Linked DNA regions of Homo sapiens: all the other regions are linked to region 2. Evidence: fine-mapped expression QTL. A gene starts in region 2. Each other region holds a variant in brackets. All regions are shown on one strand. Distances are from middle to middle.

Region 1 (8,275 bases), 200 kb before region 2:
CCCTCCCCCAAAGCTTCAATGACATGCATAGAAAGTTATTTTACACCTTGCAGATAATAAATACATCAAGAAAAATGTCTGTTTAAATTTTAGTCAGTGACAACTACTGCATAATAATAGCTCTCTTGAATTAAGTGCATCCCAGTTCCTGTTTCGAATTCTCCTGATGACTCTGCATCATGGATATTGTTAGTTCTTTTTGTTTGTTTGTTTTGTTTTTTTTTGTTGTTGTTGTTGTTTTGTTTTTGAGATGGAGTCTCCCTCTGTCACCCAGGCTGGAGTGCGGTGGTGCGATCTCAGCTCACTGCAACCTCTGCCTTCCAGGTTCAAGAGATCCTCCCGCCTCAGCCTCCCAAGTAGCTGAGATTACAGGTGCCCACCACCCTGCCCAGCTAATTTTTGTATTTTTAGTGGAGATGGGGTTTCACCATGTTGGCCAGGATGGTCTTGAACTCCTGACCTCAAGTGATCTGCCCGCCTTGGCCTCCCAAAGTGCTGGGATGACAGGCGTGAGCCACTGCGTCCCGCTGCTATTGTTAGTTCTGAAAATAACATACAGCCAAACAAAATGGAACACACATGTGGTTCTGAGCTTCCAAGAAGCCAATTCAAAGAGAACAATCAGTTCCATTAACATAACTTACAGCACCTATGTCCATGAACACAAATGTCTCTCTGGAAACTCATAATCGTCCCTGAGTCCTGAGAGACACTGAGATATCTTTTAATGACTCTGCAGTTTCCTAGACTAAAGATCTTAATCATTTTACTTCTATCCTGGAATTTACAAATTTTTATTATTAAGACACCATATGTAAAAGCTATAATTTCTGATTCTACTTTAATATAACATTGGGGCTTTATTTATTTGTTTTCTGAGAAATCCCCAAAACAAGTGCCCATTCTTTCTTTATTGGCTTAAACTTCTTCCTTTGACATCGTTCGATTGTTCTTTATCCTTTCTTGACAGCAGAGAATTAAAAACCCCATTCTATATCCTCGTTTCTGCGTTGTGCCAAGGCTATTAATCTCTCACTTTCCTATTCGCTAAACTTCTCCCCAAATGGTAAAAGAATGTTAAGTTTTGCCCTGAAACCTATACACCCATCCACAGTGCATGCGATGACGTTTCAGGGCTGGCTTAGACTTCACATCTGTGGCATGGCAAGACTCTCGGCCCGAAAGCAGCCTCTCTGGGTCTGAGTTCGGCTGGCAGATGAGACTGGTTTCTGGTTTAGCCATGATTAGGAAAACAGCTGAGTCAGGACATGGTGATGCTGGGTGACAGCCACTAGAGTCCTGTCCCCCACTCCTTTCTGCCTGTAGCCGCCATCCCAGAAACATGGAAGATTTGGTTTCCTTGGTAAAAATGCCCTTCCCCAAAACACACCAACTTTCTACCATAAATTTAAGTCTTGCAGACTCTAAGGCGGCTGCACTAACAGGAAGACTTAATTGAGTTTATCTTTTTCTTAGGATTTCTTAGAGAGGCGTCACTGAAAAAGATAAAGACAGAAACAGATTTTTTTTTTTTTTTTTTATTGAGACTGAGTCTTGCTCTGTTGCCCAGGCTAGAGGGTAATGGCGGGATCTCGGCTCACAGCAAGCTCCGCCTCCCGGGTTCACGCCATTCTCCTGCCTCAGCCTCCCGAGTAGCTGGGACAACAGGCGCCCGCCACCACGCCCGGCTAATTTTTTGTATTTTTAGTAGAGACGAGGTTTCACTGTGTTAACCAGGATGTTCTCGATCTCCTGACCTCGTGATCCGCCCACCTCAGCCTCCCAAAGTGCTGGGATTACAGGCGTGAGCCACCACACCTAGCCCTGACTAATTTTTCTATTTTTAGTAGAGACGGGGTTTCACCATATTGGCCAGGCTGGTCTCGAACTCCTGACCTTGTGATCTGCCCACCTCAGCCTCCCAAAGTGCTGGGATTACACACAGTCATCCAGCGGGACTGCTGACCCTGCCATAGCAAAGCAAGGGCCCCCAGTTTGCCTCTGCCCCTGCACTCTTTAATAAACCAGCTGGATTTCCAACCGCTGTCAGTCCTTTCTCCAGCCTCCTGTCCTGAAAGGAGAGAAATCTGAAGTGTTCTTATTCCCATAGGATAAAACAGAAAGAGGTAAAGCACAGGCTGCCTCCACAGGTCCAGCCTGAGCCCGTCACCCCAGCCAAGCTCTTTGCTTCAAGGATAGGAAATGGGCCTTCCTCATGGAAGTCCTGCCTGAGACCTGTTCCCTGTCTTCTGGAAAGACTTTGCCCTGCATCTTCCCACAGGGGATGAAGATCACACTCTTCCCCAGAGCACGGAAGTCCCGCCCAGGTTGGCTCCACCGTGGTTCTCAGTGGGTCACCCTGCCACTCCCTCCCCCAGGGGCCTGGGGCAGGTTGGGTTGTCACAATGTCACGGTGGGCCAGGGACACTGAGGAGGCAGGCTCGGCGATGCTAAACTGTGGGAGAGTCAGGCACAACACAGCAAAATGCCAAGTGGAGAAGGGCTGTGGGTAGTCTGCAGCAGACTCAAGCACGCTCTTCCATCCCCGACCGTGAAGGCCGTGTGCCTCAGCAATCGTGCACCTAGCGAACCAGCAGATATGTGCTGAGTGCCGACTACAGCGACGGCCAACGAGAAGTTCTAATTCCACAGTGGGGAGCCACTGGGAGTCCTTGCCCCCACTCCTGCCCTCCCTGCTAGTGAAGGCACTAGACACTAAATAAACACGCATGCCACACAAATAAGTCGCCATGGTAAGAGCTGTCATGGACACAGAGAGTGCCATGAAAGAGGGTACTGGGGTGGGGGCAACAGGAGACCGATATAGATGAGGGGCTGGGGGGGCCCTCTCTGAGAAGGGAGCTTGAGGCTGAAACCCAGAGGAGGAGTGCTCAGTGGTCAGGCGGGAAGAGGAAGTGCTCTCCAGGCTGAGGGAATGGGCTTCTTGAAGAACCTGAGCCAGGAAAGACCTTTGAGAGTGAGAGGAATGGAAAGAATGGGCCAGGTGGCCAAGTGTGGGGAGCTGGGAGAGGGGACGTGGCAACAAGATGGGGCTGCTTAGGTAAGCAAGGGACCATTGGGCCAGGACTTGGTATTTTTTATTTTAAGACTTGGTATTTTTGTGGCCGGACATGGTGGCTCATGCCTGTAATATCAGCACTTTGGGAGGCTGAGGCAGGCGGATCACCTGAGGTCAGGATTTCGAGACCAGCCTGGCCAACGTGATGAAACCCTGTCTCTACTAAAAATACAAAAATTAACCGGGCATGGTGGTATGTGCCTGTAATCCCAGCTACTTGGGAGGCTGAGGCAGGAGAATCACTTGAACCTGGGAGGTGGCAGTTTCAGGGAGCCAAGACTGCGCCACTGCACTCCAGCTGGAGACAGAGAGAGATTCCATCTCAAAAAAAAAAAAAACAACTTGGTATTTTTGATCTTAAGTTCAGTGGGAAACCACAGGGAATTTTTACAGGGGAGGATCATGATCCATCATCTTCAGGGTAATGTAATTCATAGCTCATGGGAAGAACAGAGTTAAATAACTGAGGTCATGAGCAGTTCCACGAAAATCCTTACACTGACCCACTAAACAGACTGTCAATGTGATTTCATACACCTTTAATTAGTAATACTGGTTGCTGTGAACAACAATCTTAATTTTTCTTGCCTGGATCATCGTAGACTTTGGAAAGAGCTCCCTATGGCCCTCCCAAAAGTTTCAATGACATACACATCAAGTTATTTTATATTTTGCAGATAATAAAAATATGGGGATTTTAAAAAAAATTTTGGTCAATAACAACCATAACAATAGTGGCTATCTGGAATGAAGTACCTCCTCAATTCACTCTCTCTGCATTGTGGATACTGTATTTACTGAGTTAATGGCGGCTCAGCATTTTAGGTATCTTGCCTATGGTTACAAATCTCTGAGCAACTAACCCAGGACTTGAATTCAAGTCTAGCCATGAAGCACACAGTCCCATCCAGTTCTTCTAAGATGTTCTAAACATTTCAGCAGAATGTTCAATGTGTTTCTAACATCGTGTTTCCCAGTTACAGACTCACCCTTCTGGCTTCTGTGGGGTCTAGAGCTACATCTTGGCTCCTTCACACTTGCAGAAACAGAAGTTCTACCATCATCCTTTTAAATTTTCTTGCTCGTGTCATACTGCAAAAACCTCTACAGTTGTTCCAAGCCCAATTTATCTCCTTTTATTCTTCCTTACCCCAACCCCTTTCTTTCTTTCTTATCACCAACATGGATGATTTGCATAGACCCGAACCAAAATTTTTCTGGTTGTGAAAACAATTCTTCCAGTGCAAGACTTAAGTGTTGGGAATTTAGTGGTCAGGGAGGGGTAACCGTGCTCGCCCAAGTAACTTCAATCAGC[C/T]TAATAAATAATCAGTAGAATCTCTGGAATGCCCTCTCTGTGCCAATCCCTCCCTGTCCTTCAAAGCCCAACTCAAACACCATCTCTTCCAGGAAACACTCAAGAGTTGCTAATGTTCTCCAGCTTGGAATTTCTGTAAGACCTGATGCTACATTTGTTTGTCTGTTTTGGACTCTGCCTTGCCGGAGTGGAGGCTCCCTGAGGGCAGGTCTTTGGCATCTTGACCTTTGTTTCCCATCATAGAACTTGTACACAGTAGAGTCTCAGTAGATGTTAGTGGGTGGTATGAATTATTAAATATTGAGACAGTTGATTCCTGACTACTTATTGACAGATTGTTCACTTGGTTGGTGTGTAAACCAGTCACCAAGTAAACAGAGAAGAAAGCGAAGTCAGGCTTTCAAGCTTGGTTAATTATTAGTAGCCCCAGAAGAAATTTCAACAGGGAAGAGGTGTTGAAAGTACAAATTCTTCTGACCTCAGTTGACCCAGAGCTACAGTCCAAGGGCAGGACACAGCTCTCCCCAGCCCTGAAGGGCTAATTCCTGCAGCCTCTCCTGGACAGTGTCCATTTTATGCCACCATGCTCACAAAGGTAGGATGGGGAAAGATTTCCCCAGAGCTAGGTGAAAGATCGTAGAACATGGTCTGGACCCCTGCCTGACTTGAGAGAAATGCAGCAAATTCAGGCCCAAGCTTCTAAAGGAGGCCAATATTTTTCTCCAGAGGAAAGACTTATTTTGAAAACTGGAAAAGGATATGAAATGCCAGGCTCAATTCTAAAGCCTGTGGTTGAATGGCTGTGAGGCCTGGACTCAAAATATCTGGGGAAATCAAGACAATCTGGAAAACGTGGCTTCGGAGCTTTAGTGACAGCTAGTGTGGTATTGTCCAGGCCTGCCTGAGCTTCAGAAAGTCAGATGTGGGGTGGGAAGCTGCATGCGTTCTGATGGTGACCAGGGCCATCTGTGGGAGCTGTGTGGGAGCACAGGCATACCCTCCTCAGCCTGGGCGCACTGCAATCAACGTGATTCAAAAAAAGAAAAGAAAAGAAAAGAAGAAAGAAACCCCATCCACTAAGTGCTTTTCTCCAGCGCTTTGCTCCACTCCGAGAATGTCTGCGTCGCCAGATCCCTGCTGACTTGGCTGCCTGCATTTTCCATTTCGAGGATCAAGCAGTGTGTGGCCAGGGGCTCGCTGGGGTCAGGCCAGCAGGCCGAGGCCTGAGCAATTACATTCTGTTTCAGAAAGACAGAGAAAGGGAAATGGTTAGAGGAACATCCCTTTGGAGCGGCATGTGGCAAACACATCTCCAAGGCTCATAACCACCACTCCCACGGGCTCCAAAGAGTCCTGCTGGCTGGAAGCCTCTTTGCAGGACAATTTAAAATAGCAATGCCACAAAATATGAGAAAGCGTGGTTTATAATAGAAACCATATCTTGACCTTCACACTAGCAGCAAAACCATCCAAGCCAGCCAAACTGTCATCATTTCACCAGCGTTTTCACTGAAGCCACCCATGACTTGAACATTGTTGGTGCCTTTTCTTAGACTGGGAGGATGTCAGAAGTGTATTGTATTTTCAGGGAGGTGGGAGGCTTCTGTTATAACCGTGTCCTAGAAGAAAAAAGTAGATTTTTATTAGGCCTCTAATACACCTTAGATAGGTTTCACCTTTTATTTTAATCTGACCAGATTTCAACGGTGTTCCCCAGTTCCCTGGAGACCTGTTGTGATGCCTCAAGGGAGAAAGGGAAGAACTTGGGTCCCTGACCCCACACCCCATGAGAATTATACTTTCAGTAGTTGAAAGGAGACACAATAGTCAAAATGTGTAACAACCAGCATCCCATGGGCGCCGGCCTTTGAGAATGAAGCACCTGTTGGAGCAGCTGGAGGGCCACCCTGGCTCCCGCCTGTTGGAAAGCAGCCCTGTACCAGCTGATCCTGTGCCTCATTCTGCAGTCCCTTGAAGCCCTTTGAACTTTCTAAGAGGGAGGCCCGTGTTGCTTGCCCAGTGCCACACAAAGGGACATGAGGCACAGTCCCTGATCTCAGGCACTTCTCAGAAAAGGACAATCATCCTTTCACATGGCCCATGGCAGATGCCAGGTGAGCAGCTTCTAGGGGTTCTCATGGCTGACTGCACATCCCGACCACCTGGGGGACATTAAGAAGAGATTCCTCAACTCCTCCTGACCTGCTGAATGCAAATATCCCGGAGCCAGGTCCAGGCTGAGCTCAGGGTGGTCCTTGAGCAGCCAGCATGGGATGCACCGGTGTGGACGGTGAGCACGCTGGTTTCCAGCAGGGAGCGACACTGTGGCCTCTGTGGGAAGGCCAGAGGGGCAGCACCAGGCAGAGCAGGAGGCACCAGGCAAGGCCCTGCAACAGCGCCTCTGCTCGGGGAGGGATGGCAGAGAAGACAGATTTCAACCCTCCAGCCACCTCGGGAGGAGACATTTAGGGATGCAGGACACAGCTGGAGGCCGGATGTTGGGCAGCTGTTGGCCACCAGCCTCCTCCGTTATTCTCCCCAGCTTAGCAACCATTCTCCTGTATATGGTGGAGAGAAATAGGAAGGAATGGGCAAGAAATATATATGATCATGTATTCCAAAAATGCATCATGAAAAGACAAGTAAATGCCCCTAGAGTTTGCCAAAGCCACACCTTGCCCATGTGAAGCGGCAAATAATAAACATGGACCACTCAGTGCTCCTCGCCTCGTCCTGTCCTTCCACCCCTCCCTCTGCCTGCACCTTCACTCCCAGCGCAGCCTCGCATTTCTGAGTGTGCTCCCCAGACAGCACAGCTCAGCTCAGCACTCAAAGGAATCCTACAATGCTGAATGCAAACGGATGGGCCCTGGCAAGTGTCGAACAAACTGTATTTACTGGGTTTCTGATTCGGAGGTAAAGCGCAAATGTTGCATTTTCTTTTCATTTTAATGCTAAGGATGATTGAGACAAAGGCCTGGTCTAGAAATTATAACTCTTATCTCATAATTATTCCTTGGCTTCCCAAATCAATGCAAGCATATAACAGGCATTATCATGGGGAGCTGGCGATGGAGTGCAGGCGCCCAGAGAGAATGCAGGCACCGGCAGGAAAGCGCGCAAGCCTGAAGGCACCCTCGCAGCGGCTTCTCACCGCGCGTCCTGGTGTGGGGCGACTTGTTTCTGGTTCCTTCCTGTTAGAAATGATTAACTGGTTGAGGGGCTCATCAAGGAGGGTCCTGGCATTGCTGTCTACCCCTGTCTAGAGGAGGGGTCCTGGAAGGCACTGGGAAGTGCTGAACATATCACCCTGGGTGAAGATGTTACCTAAATTCCTAATATAGTGCTGACTGTACAATGGCCAACTTGTCCTGGTTTGCCTGGGACTGTCCTGGTTTTCAAACTGAAAGCCTTGCATCCCTGAAACCCTCTCAGCTGCAAACCAGGAGAGTTGGTCACCCTGTTTGGTTGGCAAAACCTCGCTAGCAAAACAACCCAGTTCCTCTCACCTCCTGGCTCTTCCAGCTGTCTCTCTCTGATGGCAGCTTTCTTTCCATCTTTCCCACCCAGGTCATTCAAGGGCTCCTCCGCTCTTGGAGTTCCAGGATTCTGTCACTGCAGGACCCTTGGAGCGACCCCACCCTCTTTATTTGGACTCCCTGTGTGGACTCCTCATCCTGATTTCTCCTCCCCATCTCCCTACCCCAGTGCTACACACACACACACACACACACACACACACACACACACACACACACAAGCTCACACACATAAACATTAACACACACGTGCAACACAGACACACATAAACACACACTCACATATACACACGCACACACATGCTTACACTCATGCACTCACACACTCTCATACACAGGCAC
Region 2 (8,223 bases):
TTTTCTACTCAATATTTTATGTGACAAAGGCTCTGTTTGTATCCAAAGTCACTAACTTGATAAAAGTGGATCTCCTTTACATTTCCTAAAAGGATGAGAATGTCTTATAAATCATTTCCAAGTGTTTCAGTATATCATCTATTTCTATCAATACTCACATTTTGAAAGGAGCCATATTTGTAAAGGAAATAGATGAAGATACACATCCTTCCCAACCCAACCCCCAAAAGAGTTGCACATGAGAAAGACTCCACCTACTCTCCCAATCTTCATTGTAGGTGTTTGTCATCATGTTTACCATTTCCTTCCATAGCAGCAACACCTGCTTCTTATTCCATGTATTAGCTAACAGTTAAAATAAAGAATAAATGATAAGCCTCCCTCCCTGGGCAAGAACCGTATTATATCCAACCCTATAACCCCATGAGAATCCAGCAAGGCACTTCGCTCTTTGGGGGCACGCCATAAAAATGCTGAATGAATGACAGCACTTTTCTTCCATCTTTTGGTCTTCAGGTTTCTCAGCAGTAACCTAACATTGAATCTGAACAGAAAACCGCCAACCTGAAACAGGTTATCCTTCATTATCACCATAGGACCATCTTACCATTTGTAGATCAAGAAATAAAATAAGGGAATCAAGTACAATTAAAAGCTTCTTCCTCAAGCCCTCAAAAACGCCTCGCAGCACCTGCAATAGCAGACAAGTTCTTTTGCAAAGAATGCAAATGTGATAATGAGGTAATGCCAAGATAGATTAAAAAAAAAAAAAAAAAAAACTGGCTGCCTGGAAATGTGCCTGAATCATGAAACAGAGTGTTGCAGGTTTGTCGATGAAATGATGGCCACCAACCCTCCTATAGCTTCACAGTTGGTGTCAGGACCGGTTCCTTAGGAGGCATAAGAAAGGGGAACTGTGAAGTGTGGAATGAAGACATTCAAACCCTAAGTACATGAAACCCAGGATTATCTGAACACTTAGTGCAGCAATGGGTTTATGTACATATGTGTTTTGAGGTTAGGTTTGCATTTAGGTGTGTTTCAAAATTTACTGCCACAAGTCTGAAGAGTGTAGCAACCACAGCAGCGACTTAAATGACTGAAGTATAAACTGTAGTTGTCACTTTCTTTACGAATTTGGCTTTTCATGAAAGGGAAAATCAAGGGAGCCTTATTGCCAAAATAGTACAACATCCTTATGTCGCCTGACTTTGCAATAAAAAAGATGGTTCTTTTATTTCGGCTTTATGTTCGTGGAAATGCGGTCGCAAGGCATTTTTGAAGCATGAGATGCTGACCCCAGTTAAAAAGGACTTGCTGTTTTAGGAGAAAAAGAGTAAAGCTAGACTGTAAGTACCAACCACAAGCTTAAAATGATCTTCCCAGTTAAGACAGGGCTCAGAGTGATTTGGTACAGTATGTGGTTTAAAATAAAATCTCGGTTCTTCCATTACAGTGTGCTTAGAAGAAAATCTAAATTTTTCTCTGAATGAAAAATAAATAAGAACCGATGCCTTACACATCATTACATCCAAGTGGTTAAGGAGAAGTAAGGAGAAGGCAACGGAAGGTTTCCAGGCTTTTCCTCCTTCAGCATTTCCCTCAAGAATTTCATCCCTGGGTTCCCAAATCAAACCAAAGCCATTCCGTTGTATTTCCAAAAAAAGAACTGGCTCCTTCAGGAAGGCTTTTCACAGCACTGCATTTTAAGCGGAAATCTTTTTTGAAGCCTTCCCTTTCCATTTACCGTTTTGTTTGTCCCTCCTGTCTGACATGCAAACACATGATACAGCCTCCATTCTTTCCATACAGCCTAATTCAAAGCAACATATGTTAAATCCACACAGAATCATGTGAGCATTCAATCCGCATCCACACCATTACCCCCACAGAACGCGTTCAGTAAGCTCCAACACAGTTCTCTGCGTGCAAATCAGACCAGCCTGGGATGTCTGCAGGACTCTCCCCTGACTCAGCCCATCCAGAGCTGCGCATGGAACCTGTTCCTTTTGGAGAACAGGGGGCTGCTGGAAATACCCACTCAGATAACCGGCCACAATGCAGCAGCCAGCAAGCCTGGCACTGCAGGCAACCCTGGGCGCAGGATCCTCCACAAAGCTCGAGGAGGCTGCAGCGCCGGGGCTTGCAGTCATTTATCTCCCTGCAGCCAAAACGCCCGGCTCGTCCCCCCTCCCTCGTTTTACCTAACTAATAGCTCTCCAACCCCATATTGAGAGGGCCTGCTGTGGATCTTGGGAGGTACAAAATGGTGGATGGGAGCTAATTTTTTCCTGCTTTCCCCATAACTTATCGCATCCATCACTGCCCGTCCTCTCCTCCAAGCACCCGGGCCGCGGCGTACCGAGCACGTCCCGCGGCCCCGGCCCGGGGGCAGAAACGCGGTCACCAACCAACCTGATGTCATGTAGCCCCGCGAAGCCTGGGGCGCGAAGGCCGCGGGGAAACGCTTGTGCAGGCGGTAGTCCTTCTCGCTGCGGGACCTCATGCGGTCCGAGGCCCGGTCCGAGAAATCCGAGCTAGGCCAGGCTCGCCGCAAGGTTGTGCTCCGGGTCTTCTTCATGGTGGGGAGGGCGACCTGCCGCCCCGATCCTCGGGGCCTCAGCGCCGGGGCGCAGCGCGCTCCTTCATCCGTCTACGGCGGGCACGACCCGGGCGGACTCTGCGCACATTTTCCCAGCCCCTCCTCGTCGGCGTCTACACCGCCAGCGGCGGGTCCGGCCCTCCCCACGCCCCCCCACACCCCCACGGCGAAGGCTCCGATTTTACACACGTCCCACAATGCATTACACTTCATTTGCAATCCGCCCGGCTTATAGCTTCCAGATTCCTGGGGGGAAAGGCACGTTAGGAGGCTCCCCGGCCGGGAGGAGGCGGGGAGGGGGCGGGCGGGGTGGGGGCGCCGAGACTTGCAGCGTGAAGGCAATGGGAGCGCAGACAATGGCCCGATTCAGCGCAGGAGTGCTTGGCCAACTGGGAGCCACGGCACAAAAGACCCAAACAAATGAGGCAGCCGAGGCCTCCGGGGCTGACCCGGGATCGGGCGTGCGGGAGGCCGGAGGGGCGGCGGCAGACCCTCCGCGCCGGGCAGCTCAGCGCGAGGCGTGGGGATGACAGTGTCCGAGTCGTGTCCCCGCGGGCCTATCAGCCGCACGGCCCGCAGTCCCCGGCGCTGGCTGGCTCTGCCTCCGCTGCAGTCCCCGGGAGACAGTCTTCATCACAGAGGCTCGAGCGGGGGGCGCGTGTGCACAGGATCCGAGCAGGCTCTGCAGACAGCAGCTGCGGCGGGCGGGCTCCTGCGGAATCCAGGAAGAGCCCGCGTCGTCCCCGCGACTGCAGCGCCTCGTCAATCTTCCCCTTGCCGAGGCTCCGGGCGCTGTGCGTGCGCGCGGGTGGATGGCTGGGTGGGTGCGCCGACACGCATGTGCCCCCTACACATGCATGCTCCTACTTACTGGCCGAGGCGGCGCCGGAGCCATGGCTGCCAAGGACGCCGAGCCTGCGATCGACCCCCGCGCGGCGGCAGCGCTGCTCCGGCGCGAGCGCGCGGAACGGCTATTGAAGGGCAGGAAGCAGGACAGCCGCCCAGTCTCATGCTAATCACCAGGCTGCCTTAAGTTAGAACGCGGTTCCCATCAGGCTTCTCATTTTCATGTAAAACACCCGGCGGCGGCGCGGGGACCTTGGCAGCTGCCCCAGCCTGGAGCCAGCGCTTGGATATTTACATATTTTTAGGATGGTCCCTCCCGCTCGGAGAGAGACAGCGAGCCAGCCTTCGTGGGAACGGGGAGATCTGCGGTGCGCTGCCTGGCCCACCTGCGCCAACCCCAAAGGAAGCTAAAGCCAGAGGGAGGGGAGGCCACGGCGAGCTCCCCCACAACCGCACACGCCGGGGCGCCGGGTCCACGCAGCCTGGAAGACGCAATGCAAGTGGCCTGCAGCGCTTCCTCTCTCCCTCTGGAGTCCCGGTGTAAGTCACCGCCAGCCCGCTACGCTGCATTCAGGTCCACAGCTCTTTAGATGGCACGGCTCTGCACAGCTGTTTCTGGTCCAACAACCAATCGCTAAAGGACAACAATGCGCGCGGCGCGCGAGGGGAGGAGGGGCCAATGCGCCGCCCGGGCCTGGGCGCTGGGCCCGGGACGCGGGCCTGGGACCCGGAGGTCACGCCGAGTTAAAGGCGCCCAGCCACGTTGCTGCTAACCCCGACCACGCTTTGCACTGCCGTTCATTCAAAAACGGTTATCTCCTCGATTTGGGTTTTCAAAAATGCTTTGGTACAGTAAACAACGACAAAAATAAGCCCGATTTCCTTTTTCAGCGCTGCATTTGACATGTTGGTGCATTTTTTCATCTGTGACAATGCAACGTTCAAAATCATATTTATGCTGTTGTTTCATATTCACAGGTGCCAAGATGCAGAGACAGGGATATTAAATCTTTATAGGGATATGCTTCTAACAGGCTGATATCGCAAAAACAAGCCAGTGGATTCTAGCTGGTTAGGATTCAGGAAGTTCTAACACAATCTGTGCTATTCCAAGGCTTGAATTATTTGAGGGGGGTAGCAACTATCTTGAAGAACCAGGCAGAGCAGGATGGCGTTAAGCCACAGGCATTATAAAATCTAGAATTAGAGCTCTCCTCATTCAGATCTCAAGACCGCCCTCTATAACCTGTGGCCACTGTACTACCTCTTGGGATACCCAGGGTAAATAAATAAATAATCACTAAGTAGCCTATGGAATTTATATTTACATAATCAAAATGTATTACTGTCAACCAATTCACTAATGTTCTGTGGTTTTTATTTTTAATTGGGAAAGGCACTTCTAGTTCAATGTCTTCTTTCCTGTAAGAGAACTGCTAAGAACAGAAAGATTACAGCTTTAGAAGTTATAGAAGGCACTTTTAGTTCAATGTCTTCTTTCCTGTAAGAGAACTGCTAAGAACAGAAAGATTACAGCTTTAGAAGTTATAGAAAGCTAGCTGTATAAAGCAGGGATCCCCAATTCCCAGGCCATGGACTGCTTGGATATTTACCTACCCCACAGATATTTACGGACCCCGTGCAGCTTCTAGTCCTCGGCCCATTAGCAACCAGGCAGCACAGCAGGAGGTGGGTGGTGAAGCTTCATCTGTATTTACAACAGCTCTCCATTGCTTACTGGCATTACCTCCTGAGTTCAGCCTCCTGTCAGATCAGTGGCTGCATTAGATTCTCACAGGAGCACGAACCCTATTGTGAACCATGCTTGGAGGGATCTGGGTTGCGTGCTCCTTATGAGAATCTAATGCCTGATGATCTATCACTGTCTCCCATCACCTCCAGATGGGACTCTCTAGTTGCAGGAAAACAAGCTCAGGGCTCCCACTGATTCCACATTATGGTGAGTGTATATTTATTTCATTATATATTACAATGTAATAATAAAAGAAATAAAGTGCACAGTAAATGTAATGCACTCAAATCATCCCAAAACCTTCTGCTCTCCAACCCTACCCCCACCCCAGTCCAAGGAACAACTGTCTTCCACGAAACTGGTCCCCAGTGTGAAAAAGGTTGGGGGCCGCTGGTGTAAAGGACCATAAGGTAATAACAAGTTGTATTAATGAATGTAGGAGAACTGACATTTAGATATCTCAATTCAACAATTACTCAGTACCTCCCAAGAGCCAAAGGTGGTTATATGAATGATTATAATAGCTATGACTTAAAGCTAATGGTGACTGCTGTGGCAACTGTGATAGTCATTCATTCAGCAAACAATGGCTGACTGTCTAGAATACGCAAGCCCTGGGATGGGTGCTGGGCAAACAGAACACCACACATGACCCTGCAGCAAACCGTCTAGTATGGAAGAGAAACAGTAGGCAAATAAATGCAGAAATTGTGCTAAGTTCTATGAAGAACAATAATCTCTCTAAGAAATGACAGTTGAGCTGAGACCTACAGCATGAGGAGCCACTCAAGCAAAGAGTGGGGGAGATGGTGTTACAGAAAGGGGGAACAGTCTGTGCAAAGGCCCTGGGGTAGAAGGGATCTTGACTTTCTGTTGGAGGAAGTGGAAAAAGGCCACTGTGGCTGAAATTGGAGCACAGTAAGAGGGAGGTTTGTGATGAGGTCATGGAAGGATGCAGAGCCAGATCATGCCGGAACTTGCAGGCCATGGTAAAGGTTTTATATTCTATTCCAAGTGCAGTGTGAGCCGTTGAAGAGTTTGGATCAAAGAAGCAATGATATTTTTAGAATTTCTTTACAGAAGAAGAGGGAATCTGTTCGAAGGGAGAGATTGACTAAGAATTTTCTGGAAGTAAGTTTGAATCGCACTTGATTAAACTGAGAAAATATTAATTGTTCATATGAAAGACGGGAGGTGAGTTGATGGACATTTGGGGAGAAGAGCTATAGCTCCACTCAGCCACCTCCAAATGCAGACCTTGCAGAGGGGTGACATGATCCAGTGTTCGTGGCCAACTAGCCTGATGTAGAATAATCAGGTGGTACATAGGCTGAGTTAGCTGAATCGGATCAGATGGCAAAGTAGGTATGGGTGGTGTAGTAATTTATCCATCCAAACTGGGGACAATGCTGAATAGTGCTATGAAGGGAAGGCTTAAATCTAGCAAACAGCGTATTGTGAAACCAGTCCAATCTGAAGAAAAATGGAGTTCCCTGTTACTATAGCCACTATTAAAATCAGACTCAGTCTGTCCATCTGTGTTATGATGGAAAGAGTCACTCTGGTCATATACAACCCCTATGTCCCTGGGCCCAGTTTCAGATCTCTAAACCTACCTCAGACAATCATGTACCTGGGTCATGAGTTGTCCATCAAGCAAGCTCGGTTTTGTAAGCCAGTATTCAATATTAGGAAAGTTAGAATTAAATGAATGATAAAGCAAATCGATTTTATAGCATTAGTATTATTTAATCGGGCTTTTAAAATGTGTATATTTGGTATTTTCATATCAGACAGATTAGAGACACTAATTACACAGATTTGCTTTGTGACTCTAATTCAAATGTATAATTGATTTTAGACTTGTAATCTTAAATTGAAAGGTATACAAATTTTGACTTGAAATCCTCTTCATTTAAAACTTTAGTTTATCAGCTTTGCTACAGTTGAATGAATTTAGAGTTAGAAGAATGTAAACTCCATAAGGATGAGGGATATTTTCTGTCTTATTCATTGTTGCTCATTGTTCTGTTTTGTTCAGAGCTATATCCCCAATGGCTAGCAATGGTTGGCACATATTTGATGACTACTAAAGGCCCAATAGAGTACTGGGGAAAATTTGGGTTGAAGCCTTCCTCGTCAGATATATTAACTACTTTTTAAAAATCAAGTGTACCAAGTATATGACATCAAAGACACAAGCCACAAAAGAAAAAACAGAAAAACTGACTTCATGAAATTTTTAAAATGTGTGCATCAGAAGACACTGTCAACAGAGAAAAGACAATCCACAGAATGGGAGAAAATATTTATAAAGCATATATCTGATAAGGGATTGATATCCAGAGTATGCAGAGAACTCCTAAATCTCAACAACAAAAAAACAAACAACTAGATTCAAAAATGGACAAAGGACTTGAATAGAGATTTCTGCGAAGAACATATCCAAATGGCCAGTAAGCACATGAAAAGATACTCAGTATCAGTAATCATTAGAGAAATGCAAATCAAAACTACAATGAGATACCAACTCACACCCATTAGGACGGCTACTATCAAAAAAAAAAAAAAAATACCCAAAAACCAGAAAATAACAAACATTGGCAATTATGTGGAGAAACTGGAACCTTTGTGCACTGTTGGTAGGCAAGCAAAATGGTACAGCTACTGTGGAAAACAGTATGGCAACTCCTCAAAAACTTAAAAATAGAGTTACCATATGATCCAGCAATTCCACTTCTAGATATACCCGAAAAGAAGTGAAAGCAGGGACTCGAAGAGATATCTGGACCACCCCCATGTTCATAGCAACATTATTCACAATAGTTAAAACATGGGCGCAACCCAAGTACCCATTGAGGGATGAGTGGATAAGCAAAATGCAATATATACATATAATGGAATCTATTCAGCATTCTAAAGAGAGGAAATCTTGTCCAATGCTACAACAGGGATGAACCTTGAAAACAGAATGCTAAGTGAAAGAAGTCAGTCACAGAAAGAAAAATAATGCATAATTCCA
Region 3 (8,000 bases), 84 kb before region 2:
AGAATAAATAGAGACAGATAAGGCAGAAAGGGTAGAGCATCGGGCAGAAAGGGGCCATCCTCGTGGGCAGGGGTGGGTGAGAGCGCCCTGGCCAAGAGCCACCTTCCCCACCGCCAGAGGTGATTCCTGACGTCTCTGATAGGAACAACTAACACTTCTGTTGGACCATTTAGCTATTTGCAATAGATGCATAGCAGAAAAGGTAGGATGGAATATGAGCCCTGGGACCAATCAGGTTAATTTCGTAATTAACGCCTTTGCTAAGGCTCCACACTATAACCCATCAGCTAGGTCCAGGGTGGTACGTGCTAGGCACATGGAATAAAACCTAGCCGAATGCTTTCACACGGCAGGTCCTCAAATGCTTGTAGAATCAAAAGGTCCTACGTACATAAACAAGAAGAGGCAAGGCCCTGCTACCTTACAAGATGTTTTCCAACACCAGCTGCCACTTGTGCTCCAGTCCTTCAACCAGAATGAAGGTAAAGCCACTTACCAACAAGGATAAAGTTATGATGAAATACCAGTCCTAGATGATAACAATTAGTAAGATCTCCCAGATGTCCTGAAATTCTGTAAAGCACCTGACCAACAAGAGCACCTGAGGAACATGACGTCTTCCTTTTCCTTAAGTGCATCACATAAGAAAGAACATAAATTCCTATTTTAAGCCACCCTGTACTTCTCCTTCATGTTCATTCTGCAGCATAACCTGGCCTAACACTAGACATTAGATGCTCCAGTTTCCACTGATGATATTTCCCAACTTCAGCTTAATAAATCATCTAACAACTCTAGGTCACACATTCACTTTCCCTCTTTTTAAGTTGGAATCACCAGAGCTATTTCTCAGTCTTTGTATTCTCTGCTTCATCAGTTTAGGGATGACAACTGTAGTGGGACTGATTTCTGTAAAATACAATTGTAATAGGACAGGAAGGCCTAATTAAATAAACTACAAATATGGACAGGTTGACAGTTCCCAAATTACAACAAAATTGTACCGATTGACTGCTACCAACCAACCCCCCTAAAACCGAACACGCTTCTACCCCTTCCAACTGCCATGGAGGTCATTATGAAAGGACTATGTCAGAATTCAGAGGCATGAAAGAAAGGATAGGGGATCAGATCAGATACACAGAGGAAACGTCTAAGTCGCTGTACAATTAAGTAACTTTTCTCTCTTCAATTCAGCATTACAAGATGGTGTTAAAAGCCATGGGCTTTGTAGTCAAAACTTTAGGTTCAGAGCCCAGTTCTGCTCCTCACTGGTTGTGTGATTTGGGGCAAATTATTTAATTTTTTGAGTTTCAATTTTTTCTTTTGTGAAGTATACATAATGATGTTTACCTTGTAGACTCACTGAGGGGATTAAATGAGATAATGGATGTTGAGTGCTTACCCTGTCCCTGAGACCTAATACATGTTTAATAAATAGTAGCTAGTATTAAAAATATCTTCCCTGGCCGGGCGCGGTGGCTCATGCTTGTAATCCCAGCACTTTGGGAGGTCGAGGTGGGTGGATCAGGTCAGGAGTTCAAGACCAGCCTGGCCAACATGGAGAAACCCCATCACTACGAAAAACACAAAAAATTAGCCAGGCGTGGTGGCAGATGCCTGTAATCCCAGCTACTCGGGTGGCTGAGGCGGGAGAATCACTTGAACCCAGGAGGCGGAGGTTGCAGTGAGCCAAGACCGTGCCATTGCACTCCAGCCTGGGAAACAAGGAAAGACTCCGTCAAAAAAAAAAAAAAATTCTTCCTCAAGCCCATCTAGATTTATCCAATTTACTCATTTACAGTGTTTGAATTTCTACCAATGGAAAATTTGTTTGTACCTAAAAATAAGCCTTTTTAAAAAACTAAAATATCTTTGGGAAGGCTAAGAGTGCAGAGGTCTTCCTTATACTAGTATGAAGTAGTTTAATAAGATTACTTTAATCAGATATATAGAACACATAGCATTTGGGATGCATCACCAGGCTGGGAGTGCAAACATGCATTACACTAGGGACTTTGGAGAGAAAAAGGCACTAGGAGATGGGAAATAGTGTGGATAGAGAATTACAAGGATATCAAAGGATGTTGACCTATTTCAAAACTTAGGTTGGGCCAATCCATTACCTAAGAAAGGGAAAGGAAACTCAGGACTTAAATAAGTACTCTTAGTATTAAAAATCAGTGACACCAGGAGTTAAATAATTTCTGATATGATCCGAATTATTAGTAACCATTCTGGCTCTTTCTTCTAAGGAAAATGTCCTGTAGGAGTCAAAAAAGTGACTTTCACCTAAACTTCCCGAATTCGGCATACTCCTCATAACTTAAGGATGGCTTGTCCAATATAATTCAAGTAAACCGTGATCAATGTCCACATGCTCATTTGTCCTTTACGGCAACAGTTCTTTACAAGCAGGGTAAGGCAGCTTCCTGGCTGTGACACTGTCTCAGGGTAAGAACCATCACAACTTCTAGAGTGGCATGCATGACTCCTGAGGTCCACCTTAGCCTGAATATACCCTGTGAAGATTCTTAAAATTAGCAAAACCAGATCATTCTAACTCTCTATGACCAAAAAAAAAAAAAAAAAAAAAAAAAAAAAAAAAAAAATCCTGCTTTTTAAACTGCCCCTCTTCCTATTCAACTATTTATTGAAAGGGTTCCATGTGTAGGGAACTGCTAGGAGATGTAGACAGCAGAAAAAAGCATAAATCTTGATCTCTGCCTTCAATGAGATTACAATTTAGGTGGGAATATAAGATATACATGTGTGAAAATATAAAGCATCATGAAATATACACATTGCTGTTCAAAACACCCTTAGAAGAGCTATAGCAAGAAAACACATGAATGAATAGAAACTTAACTCTATAATGGGAGTTTCAAGGATTTAGAAATGACCTCCTGTTGGGGTGATTAGGGAGAACTTTCCAGGGGACAGAGATTTGGAATAGGTCCTTAAGGATGGGTAGAATTGATGGGTGTGAGGACATGATGGAACTGTATTTGCAACATACCATGCTTGTGTTTTTTCTGACCAAACATCCTTTAAACCTGACTCAGCATCCTCAACGTTGCTCTGAAGATGCAAACTGCTATGCAGAAAGAAGAGACCTCTGACAGTGGAGAAAGGAAACATGCTCTCTTTTCTTCTGTGACAGGGTGAGCTATGAGATGGATGTGACTGCGAAGAGAAAGAAGATGTTCAAGGGGTCTTGAACATCTGCCTTTAAACATGTTCTAAAAATTCTTACCTATTACATACGGGATTCAACACTCTCAGAAATATCTGTAACAGTGCTGAAACCATCCATGTGATGAGGGGGTAAAGCCATGCTTTCAGATGTGCCAAGTCTCACTTTGGAAATGAGGCATGTAATGTACTTTTGAGGACCAAAATTTACCATTTCGTTGTCATGTTTTTTTAAAAAGCTTTCGTGTGAAAAGCCCATGGATGTTGTAAGAAAACAGCTCTGTCATAATCTGAATCCTAAAGCAGACTATGATGAAATATGCTTACTTCCTTAGCAGTTAACAGCAGCCTCAATATGATGTTAGTCTTGGAAACAGTCCCTGGGCACATAAATCAGGCTTTCTTGGATTTTAGTGCATTGCATGTAGGTTAACAGGCCAAACAGTATGCAAAATTTCGGGCACTATATATTAATTGGTAAGAAAAAATGTCGAGGCCGGGCACAGTGGCTCACGCCTGTAATCCCAGCACTTTGGGAGGCCAAGGCAGGCAGGTCAACAGAGGTCAGAAGTTCAAGACCAGCCTAACCAATGTGGAGAAACCCCGTCCCTACTAAAAATACAAAATTAGCCAGGCGTGGTGGCACGTGCCTGTAATCCCAGCTACTCAAGAGGCTGAGGCAGAAGAATCGCTTGAACCCGGGAAGCGGAGGTTGCAGTGAGCTGAGATCACACCATTGCACTCCAGCCTGGGCAACAAGAGCAAAACTCTGTCTCAAAAAACCAAACCAAACCAAACAAACAAAAAAAAAAAAAAAAAAAAAAAACCAGAAAAAATGTCAAATACTATTTACTGAATGCCTCCCTCAGAGCAGCGAGC[G/T]AGATAGATATACAGCTGAGGGAAATCTGGGGCAGTCTGATTATTTCCTATTGGCAAATCCTGCTGCTGTGGACTTCTCGGTCCCCGTGAGCAGCTCTGGGATGACCTGGGCTGGTGAGGTCGTGTGTGGTGGGCAGCCCACAGTGGGAGGACCTGGACTGCCTAAGATTGAGGCTGCGGGAGGAGCGGAACAGCAAGACTTCTCAGAGGACCGTGCACCCTCTTCACGGGTGGTGCTGACATTTCACCATATTCCTTTGCACACAACAACTGTTGAAATAAAAGCAGGGGAAACCTACCTGGCCCTTTCTGGACTGGCTCCATCCCCCAGGTAGCACTGACGCTAAAGCCTGGTGCATGCTAGGGAGCTGCATCCAAGCACAAGAAGGAGCCAGTAACAGAAACGGACGTCCTAGAATCTGGAATAAGAAGAAAGAGTAAAGTTTCAAGTCATAGTATCCTAAATGAGCATTTCAGATTGGCTACTGAGGGCCCGTGGAACACAAGAGGAATCTGGTACTTTACCTTCGTAGATCTACTTTTTAAAAATGAGTTCCAGAACTCTCAGCTCTTCTTACAATTCAGGGCTTGAGATACTGGTACAAGTTCAGTTCAAAAGCTGGCAAAAGGCACCTTAAAAAGGCTCTGTGAATGTACTTTGCTGGTAACGTTTTGAGGAGGGAAAAAAAAAGGAATCCTCTTTACCATTCTTTTATCCTATTTGCATGGAACAGCTGGAATCCTGTTCCATGCCTATCCCGTACATCACAGCCACTTGCTGAGCCAACATCCCACTGCAGTGCCTCGGAATCTGCAGTGTCACTCCTCTTCTGCTTGTTCTCTGCAAAGTGAAGTCACAGGGACGGATCAGCCAACCTGACTTCTCACTGCCCTGCCCAGAATCCTTTGTGAACTGAAATGAGTCATCGCTCCAAGAAAAGCTACAGCCTCTGTTTGTCTGTGCAGGCTCCTTTGTCTGTGCAGTGCGGAGACGCGAGGTCAGAATGTACCCCAGGCGCGGGGTGGCGAGGGGCACACTCTCCTCTCCAAGGGGCCCAGGTCCCCTCCCATGCATTAGCACCAACTCATATTTTTTTAATCATGAAAAAGGTAAAAAGGGCACATACCTCCAGATGCTTGAAGAGAGAACACACACATTAAAATTGATCTGGCGTCATATACTCACCAGTCCGTAATTAGAGACCTGCCACATTTTCCTATGTTGTGTTAAGGCTGGCTTTGCATGGTGACGAAGGACGCGTCTCCCTCCTGTGTGTAACAGGCGGTTCTACTGTACACTGTATCAAAGTTTAGCTGCAGTGAGCTATTTGTCATAAATTCCAGTTGCCGTGCAAGTCTTTGCAAGCCTGGGTCTCGTCATTCCCGACACACAGCCGTCAGGCTCGCAGCCCGGGCAGCGGTGGAGCTCACCCAGCACCAGCCAGTGCGGCTTCTGCCGCTGCGAGGAGGGCGGCGTGGGGAATGAGGTCACTATGTCAGGAGCTCGCTCTCAGCAGGAGCCTCTCCTGCGCTTACAACACAACTCCAATCGCACCGAGAAGTGGGATTCATGGGATTTGGGGGGTGGCTGGTTCCTCCCCTGTTTCTTAAAAATGTCTACGGCTAAGATCAGCAAGGTGAAAATGAATCACGTATCTGCATAAAAATGTCCTTTTCATTGCACTACGGGTGCCACGCTCATTGTGAACCCCAGGCTGAATCACTCACGTGTACACCTGCGGACATGCATTTACACACCGACACACACACACACACAGAGGAATTTATGCCAGCAGAGAAAACATGTAGTCTTTATTTAGAGTGCAAGAAGCAACACGTAAACATCTCAGGAGGAAGACGGGGGCGGCAGTTGAGAGAGAGAACACAATGGAAGGAGTAGAGCAGCCACATAAAACCCGAGAAAAATGGAGTCAGAGAGGCCAAGGAAACGAATCTCACGGCAGTGGTACTGCCGAACTCTCCCAAATCCAATAACGCCAAAACAGGCACCGCTCGCTGCCTCCGCTCAGGATCCGGATAACCGAAAAATTATCTCATTCTCAGAAACCCATAGAGGTGGGTGGCAGACGATTCTGCAGCAAATTCTCCCACATCCTCATGAACCCAGCAGCTCAGCTACCAGGGGCACAAAATGTGGGGTGCCAGCAAAGATGGGAAATGCACTGAAGCTCTTCATAAGGCGCCCCCGAAACTCAGAGTTACAGGGGTCCCCACGTGGGTCTCCCGGCTAAAATCCTGAAAGCGTCCTATCCTCTCCTGACTCCGGTGATTCAGCCTGTCCTCCAGAACCTCCCCCAACAGAGCTCAGGCTCTGGCAAAGGCCCCCCTGTGAGTTGAGTTCAAATCAGCGTCTCTTGTCACCCCTGCACAGTGACATCCATTCTGTCCTCGGGAGGCTACAAAACGTATAACCCGCTTCTGCGCCATCACCCATCCGATAGCTACAAACACTAACCAGGTCCCTGTGCCCAGATCAGCTCTTCTCTAGCTGCCTAGAGTCTGGGACACTCAGCAGGCATGCAGACTATATATTCATCTACTGATCCATTGAGATGCTTGCTTTGAATGTTATTAAATAAAACGTCTTCCATGCCCTCAACCACCTAACGCTTTTCACATCCTCTGCCCTCCTGGGGTCCCCCCTTTGCTCTGGTCTGGCGTATCCATTTCCCTCTGACGACGTGGCATCCTCCTGCTGAGTCCTCCCCGTGGCACTGTCTCCTCCCTGTCCTGGACTATCTGTCACCCTGTGACCCCCTTGAGAATGTGTTCCACACCAACTGCTACTGATGCACTTTTTAACAGCCTCATCAATTTTACCTTGTATGCTTGATCAGAAGCATATAAGGACCTAATAGGCCATATACAGATGAAAACATACATGTTTGGATATTAGAAATTATGACTACATTTTTATTTATACATTCTCATCCCTTTTCTTCAAGTATTTGTTTTTTTTTTCTTTCTCCACATACTTAACCAAATACGGTCTTGATTTTCCCTTCTAGGGTATGATTTTCTCTCCTCGTTGATAAGCCACTAGCTTCTCATGCATGCCACAGACTGAGCCTAGGGCCCAGCACCAGCGCCTCCAAACAAAGCCACTCGCCTTTCATCAAACCTCTTTAAGTCTGGCTGTGTTGTTGGATATAAATCCACCCAAACCCATGTAATCCAGCCCATTCCTGTCGGGCGTGGTCTGATCACTGTAAGGTCAGACAGGGTGCCTAATAAGCACACGCACCTTAAGAATGCAATGATGGAAGCATATAACAAATGTATTACAAATTCATATCTAAACAGACATATCTGTAGTCCTGGCAGTGTAAGAGCCTTCTGGGAAGCCCTGGGTCACTGTACCACCTCCTGACAGTTAAAGACACAAGTTTCTTCTATGATCTATGAAAGGTTAAATATGTGGAGAAAGAAAAAAAATCCAAATACTCGAAGGGATGAGAATGTACAAATAAAAATGTAGTCATAATTTCTAATATCCAAGCATGCATGTTTTCATCTATATATGGGCCTAGTATGTCTGTACTTAGAAACTCACATCATCTTCACAAGGACTCTGAAAGTTAAGTACTGGTGTGAGCCCCACTTAAAGAGGGGAACTCTCTTCCTGAAGCTCACAGAGCTGGTGAACGGCAGAGATGGGATTTCAACCCAAGGCAGCTGGCTCTCGAGTCTGTTCTTTCAGCCACTGAAAGTCAATTTTACCTTTTACACGTTTATGTATGCTGTTCTACAGACTTCCTACATGAATCATCTTCAACAACCATTGCTGTTGAAAGTCTGTTCTTTCAACAACACGTGTTACCTCTTGATAATTAAAATAAAAAAGCCACTGTAAACAAAAAAATGTCAAAACCTATATGTCAATTTTTAAATTTAGATTGAACACA

Which allele goes with the higher level. Alleles are on the strand shown, and positions count from the first base shown. SD is a standard deviation of normalised expression in the study named. Not every link is listed here.
For the expression in monocytes after R848 of the gene that starts at base 4,065 in region 2, G is the high allele of the variant in region 3 and T is the other (large effect, 1.1 SD a copy in Quach 2016).

What was found.
Region 1: its variant is fine-mapped to the expression of STOX2 in lung (TOPMed, PIP above 0.99).
Region 3: its variant is fine-mapped to the expression of STOX2 in monocytes after R848 (Quach 2016, PIP 0.95).

The regions. Positions count from the first base shown.
Region 1 is chr4:184,101,183-184,109,457 of GRCh38, reverse strand. The region is part of intron 6 of ENPP6 (ectonucleotide pyrophosphatase/phosphodiesterase 6); the gene reads left to right. Among named protein-coding and RNA genes, the nearest start is that of ENPP6, 110 kb to the left of the region's middle. RefSeq lists a silencer at 6,668-6,962. The variant C/T (reference allele first, on the strand shown) is at 4,395.
Region 2 is chr4:183,901,149-183,909,371 of GRCh38, reverse strand. STOX2 (storkhead box 2) reads right to left here and starts at 4,065. Exons shown (of 4, transcript NM_020225.3): 1 at 2,416-4,065. The coding sequence starts at 2,581. RefSeq lists enhancers at 3,105-3,812, 3,813-4,522.
Region 3 is chr4:183,985,191-183,993,190 of GRCh38, reverse strand. The region is part of intron 1 of STOX2 (storkhead box 2); the gene reads right to left. Among named protein-coding and RNA genes, the nearest start is that of STOX2, 84 kb to the right of the region's middle. RefSeq lists an enhancer at 4,468-5,254. The variant G/T (reference allele first, on the strand shown) is at 4,075.